Linked DNA regions of Homo sapiens: region 1 is linked to region 2. Evidence: fine-mapped expression QTL. A gene starts in region 2. The other region holds a variant in brackets. All regions are shown on one strand. Distances are from middle to middle. Region 1 overlaps MDGA1 (MAM domain containing glycosylphosphatidylinositol anchor 1). Region 2 holds the start of RNF8 (ring finger protein 8).

Region 1 (2,906 bases), 280 kb after region 2:
CAGGCCTCTTCTCTGCAGCTGTCCCCACCAAATGCTCCAGAAGGAGCCCTGTGATGCTCCTCACCAAAGGTGCTTGCATTCAATAGGGTCATCTGTAAGCTCTCCGTCATCCATAGGGGATGAAAGGTGGAATTTCAGGCCATCGCAGGCAGCTTGAGACTACAGAACAGGGCTGGACAGAGTCTATTCAGCCAGCACCCTACAAGCGAACACATCACTCAGGAAGGTGGACACACACGCTGACGTACACGGACATTCATAGAAACGAATGGGTCTCAATCCAGTCTCACAGGCAGATATGTGAGATTGCACACACAGACCTGTGTTTGCACACACTCCTGCCCAACAATGTACCCACGGTGGTACCTAGACACAGACGGGCACAAACACATACACACATATGCACGCATGCCTAAAGAGTCATTCTAGAAGGGGCTGGGCCTTCTCTCTCCCATGGATGGCTAGGTGGGGGCTCAGGTGATGTCAAGGAGGAAAGATCTAGATCCCATCATGTCAATCTCAGGTGCCTAACCCAGGACCCAAGGACAGGGATCCCTTTCACAGCTCCCAGAGAGTGAGGGGACTGGCACCTGCTCCCTCCACCAATCCCAGCTCTATAAGCCCCTCCTCCTTCACTGCCCCTGGGTGGAGAAGGGAACTTTCAACTAGACAGTGCTTTTTGGCATTTTGCCCTGTACACACCCTCCTATCCAGGGCACCCTTTCATGCCAAGTAGATAAGAAATGAAGGCCCCTCTCCACTTCCAAATTCATTGTCTGATATGGGGGCACCAAATCACAGAAGCGGGACGTCTCTTCTGCCTTTCTCCAAGTCAAGCCTCACCCCAGAAAATGGGCTGGCCACCGCTCCCCCAGCTCCTCTGAGACCCAGCTGGGGGCTGAGGCTAGGAGAGAACCGTGTTCTCAGGAGTCCCACTGCTTGTAGGGTGGAGTGGGGAAGTTATCAGTCTTCAGACTGCCCAGGCCCAAGACCCTGTGCTGGGTCCCTTCAAAGGGTGCACACTGAGGAGGGAAATATGGTGTCCCAGAAATAGGTCAAGGAATCTGGGGTGACCTATGGTCTCCACCATCCAGTGCTCACTCTGGACAGAATCGTGTGCAGCAGGTGCCCTACCTTCCTTGTCTCCTGGACGTGGGACAGTCACAGAGCTCGCAAA[G/T]TCCCACCTGTTCGTCCTCTGATCCCTGCCTCTCCCATCTCAGGAGTCCCAGAGTCTGACCAAGGGAGGGGCTCCATGTCTGCCCCACTTCTGGCTCCCTTCTGGCAAAGCCACCAGGCTGGAGTTCGGCCTTGACTTAGGGGACAGGGTAAAGTCAGAAGCACACCACGAGTGCAGCAAGGACAAGGCCTATGTTGCGCCGAGGTCCCTGGGTTGGCGGATGCCATTCAGGCAAGTCCCCTGTCTTTGCAGTAAAGAAGGTGCTGGCAGGTCAGATAGAAACTTGTGCTTTAATATATCTCTGTGTGTGTGAGCATGAGTGTGTGCGTGTGTGCAAGTGGAACAGCTGTCTCCAGGGCCTCAGTGCCTGGCCTCTGTCCTTGTTCTCTGCTCATCCTTGCAGCCAATGCAGGCCCCCTCCCTGGCGGGCCGGCCCTGCCCCTGGGCACCCCAGCTGGCGGGGGTCAGTCTTTGGTACAATGTGGACACTTTGGTGTGCCGGGGGCAAGGTTGGGGGGGTGGCCACACAGCTCTCATCATCTCTGCAACGCCAAGAGGAAGATGGCCATGGGCCCCCACAGCTGTGGGCTGGACTGGCAGGGGGCTCCACTGCCCGGCATCACCACCACTGCAACAGGGGAGAAAGAGGAGACAGGCCAGGGCTCTGGTCAGCTCTGGCAGGGGCAGGAAGTGGCAGGCAGGTCGGCACTGTTACTCTGCCCACCTCTTTGGAGGGCCTGAGGGTGGGCACTGGCCTCAGTGCACACAGACAAACTCACCGCACAGACATGAGGTGGCGTGGGGTGGGGTGGGGGTTAGCTCAGCCTGCCAGGGTTCACATTCACTAAGACTTGGAACAATTTACTTGACCTCAGTGGGCCTCAGTTTCCTCATCTGTAAAATGGGTCCAATGGTGTGTACTACCCCAAAGGACTGTTGTGAGGATTAACTGTTGTGAGGTAAGTGAAACATGCATATACAAGTTTGTGTGCCTTGCCTGGTACAGAGTAATTGCTCAGTAAGTAGGAGCTGTTAGTATTGGAAACCTCTGGCCCTGGAAGGCACACGTTCACCTCTGGAGCCAGAGGTACGCACAGATGTATTCAGACACAGGCACAGGAGGCGCTCTGATACCGTGAACAGGTCAGTATGCTCATCACGAGGGTGGGGGCCAGGCTTCTCATTGTTTACACAAGTACACAGCCTGAGTGAGTGTGGGGCACACCTTCACACAGTCAGAGCCACATGATTCCCATCACTCAGACATTCTGAACCCCTATTCAGACCCAAACACCCTCCCTCAACAGACAGGAACCCCCGCCACGCACAGCTCCCTCCAGATTCAGCTCCCCCACCTCCTTCCCGTCTTGCACCTTTATTGGGATCCGTCTGCTTCCGGGGACACTCCCCCTTCTTCAGTGTGACGTCATCTATGGCAATATCCCCCAGGTAGCCCGGGCCTCGAACCCCCTCAAAAATAATCTGGGGTGGGGTCAGAAAGCAAGGAGCAAGGGTTGAGGAGGTTCTGCTGGGTACCAGAGTGCTCCCTCGACCCCACCTTTCCCCTTAATCTACCTGGAAGTTCCCCCTAACCTGACTCTTTCCATCCTTAGCCCCCAGGAAGAAGGACAAGGTTTTCCTAAGTGTTTCCTGGCCACAGCAACCACCGAAGCCGGGGAGGGTCCTCTGGGCCCTACGGACTCACCTGGAAGGGCCCACTGGGGCTGAT
Region 2 (2,906 bases):
GAAAGAAAAAAGAAAAGAAAGAAAGAGAAGGAAGGAAGGAAAGAAAGAAGAAAGAAATTGTTAACTGGGTGTTGGAAAACTGAAAAGACAAAAGGGGCTCAACCATTGGATGTACTCACTGCAGGCAGCAGCTATCACACTATATGGAAAATCCAAAGGAGAGGCTGAGTTTAAAAACAATTTTTTAATTGGCCGGGCTCGGGGGCTCATGCTTGTAATCTCAGCACTTTGGGAGGCTGAGGCGGTTGGATCACTTGAATCCAGGAGACACGGCGAAACCCGGTATCTACCAAAAAATATAAAAATTAGCCGGGCGTGGTGGCGCGTGCCTGTAATCCCAGCTACTCTGGAGGCTGAGGCAGGAGAATCTCTTGAACCCGGGAGGCGGAGGTTGCAGTGAGCTGAGATCGCACCACTCCAGGCTGCACTCCAGCCTGGGTGACAGGGCGAGACCCTGTCTGTAATCAGTAATAATAATAATAAAATTAACAGCTTTATTGAGTATAATTTACATGCCATAAAATTCACCCACTGGAAGTTTACACTTTCTTCACTTTACAGGGTCTCACTCTGTCGCCCAGGCTGGGATGCAGTGGCGCCATGTCGGCTCACTGCAACCTCTGCCTCCCGGGGTCAGGTGATCCTCCCACCTCAGCCTCCCAAGTAGCCGGACTACAGGTGTGCACCACCACACCTAGCTAATTTTTCTTTTTTTTCTTTTTTCCTTTCTCTCCCTCCCTTCCTCCTTTTTTTTTTTTTTTTTTTGTAGATACGGTGTCTCCCCATGTGGCCAGGTTGGTCACAACTCCTGAACTCAAGTGATCCGCGCGTCTCGACCTCCCAAAGTGCTGGGATTACAGGCGTGAGCCACTGCGTCCGGCCACACTTCCATGACTTTTTAATAAACTTATACAGTTGTACAATTGTCACCACAATCCACTTTTAGAACATTTCTATTACCGCTTTCCTCCAATTTTTTCAAGCCCATCTGCATTCAATACCCGCTCCCACACCTCGCCCCAGGTAACTGTGCTCTTTGTCTTTGTAGATTTGCCTAGTGTAATTTATTTTTTACTTCGGTAATATAAGTAGGTCGTGCAAAATAGAGACTATTTAGCAACAGACTAGGCAGACTTAAATCCGATGGAAAGTTTAAAGTTGTTTAAAAGTGGGCTATAGTTTCACATGACTTTTTTAAAAAGAGGAAAGGTGAGAAGAGGTTCCAGTCTGGGGCGGCTAGGACTGGGGTGATGGTTCTGGAGGCGGCGAGGGAAGGTGTGAGGCGAGGAGACCTCTCGAATCGCGCCCGCCCCGCCCAGGGCCGGATTGGCTCCCAACCCACCCTCTTTGCTCCAGGGCGGCCGCCGTCCTCTTGCGCAGGCGTAGTGCTCCTGCTTCCTGGCCGAGGGCGGGCGAGCGGAGCCTGCTTTCGCAGCGATCGCGAGCGTGTGGCGATTGCTTCTGTCTGTTATTTAGATATGGAAGCTGAGGGGATGCACAGAGGCAGCCAGAACCTAGGTCAGGGTCTCGCTCGGTGCTGACCGCCCCCGGGGTCGAGTAGGCGATGGGGGAGCCCGGCTTCTTCGTCACAGGAGACCGCGCCGGTGGCCGGAGCTGGTGCCTGCGGCGGGTGGGGATGAGCGCCGGGTGGCTGCTGCTGGAAGATGGGTGCGAGGTACGGGGGAAGGGGTCCTGTGGAGCGGAGGGCAGGGGCTGGAGGGAGCGGGGCTCCGGGGAGGGAGGAAGGTGTCTTGCTGGGCTGAATGAATGGCAGAGAGGAGGCGGGCATCAGGAAGAGGAGCGAAGTGTCTGTGGGGGGGGTGGATTCCTGGGGAGAGAAGGGAGAAAGCGGTTCTGGCGCGAGCGGCTGAAGGGTCTGCGGTGGGAGGTGTTTGGGGGAGAAATAGGGGCCGAGTGGGAGAAAGGAAGAAAAGAGAGTTCGGCTCTGGGGAGCCCGGGGGGGCCACAAGGGTTGGGGCGAGGACGGAGGCCCTGACCCGCGGCCTGTGGGGCGAGAAGCGGGCCCCGTCCAGAGAGGCCTGGGTCAGCGGGTAGCTGGGCCGGGGACTGGGAGGAGAGGGACGCGCAGGGAACGTGAGGAGATGCGGGGGTGTCGAGGAGGGGAGGGCGGGGGCTGGCCAGATCCCGTTTAGGGCGCACAGAGCCCCGCGGTGCCAGGTCGGGGAACGGTGGCGGGGGCCGCGAGCTGCCGGGAAGCCGAGGCAGGGCCCGGCGCCTGAACTTTCTCGAGTTTGTTTTGAAAACGATTGCAAATTTTGGGTTTTGTCCCTTAAAGCAATCAAACTTTCACGTAGAAATGTCTTCCTCCTTCCCAACTCTGAGGAACATGGGCGGCTTGGGCTGGGCCACATTTCTCCTGTGAGGCTCGGTACGGCCGAGTGGCACTCCCTGAGGTGGGTCGGGCAGGTATTCAGAGTTCTCTCCAGAGGCTGCCTGTCGTCTTTATTAATGCAGTTGCAAATGAAAAATATTTTAAGGGGAAAGATGAGGTACCGTTCCTGGCACGGTTCAAGATGCACCAGCGTGGTGCATCTTGAAAAGACGAGGGAAGGGAGGAGGGAGTTAGATTGCAATCAGGTTGAGAAGGAGAACTGGGTCAGGGACAAGCTTGTGATGACTGGGAACCATTTGGGTTTTGGAAATAATCTGTATGAAAAGTTCTCTTTGCAGTAAAAGTGGATGGTTGGTCATGATGTAAATTCAAGAAGTATTTTGAGTCTCATGTGTGTTCAGGTAGATTTTTCCTATAAGCCGTACTGCCTCAATTCAGTCTGCCAGGTATTTACTGAGTATTTAACATTGTTTGGTGTACAATGAGGACAAATAAAATTTCTGCGCTCGAAGAGTTTAAGGCTTGAGTGGGGAGAGAGGATTTATACAATGAA

The links. PIP is the estimated chance that this variant, and not a neighbour inherited with it, causes the effect. A credible set is the group of variants that fine-mapping cannot tell apart.
Region 1: its variant is the best candidate, but not a certain one, in a credible set for the expression of RNF8 in esophagus mucosa (GTEx, PIP 0.52).

The regions. Positions count from the first base shown.
Region 1 is chr6:37,635,655-37,638,560 of GRCh38, forward strand. It overlaps MDGA1 (MAM domain containing glycosylphosphatidylinositol anchor 1), which reads right to left. Exons shown (of 17, transcript NM_153487.4): 15 at 2,883-2,906; 16 at 2,551-2,659; 17 at 1-1,805. The coding sequence ends at 1,714. Among named protein-coding and RNA genes, the nearest start is that of MDGA1, 61 kb to the right of the region's middle. The variant G/T (reference allele first, on the strand shown) is at 1,178.
Region 2 is chr6:37,352,601-37,355,506 of GRCh38, forward strand. It overlaps RNF8 (ring finger protein 8), which reads left to right and starts at 1,383. Exons shown (of 8, transcript NM_003958.4): 1 at 1,383-1,675. The coding sequence starts at 1,565. RefSeq lists a silencer at 1,236-1,335 and an enhancer at 1,636-1,685.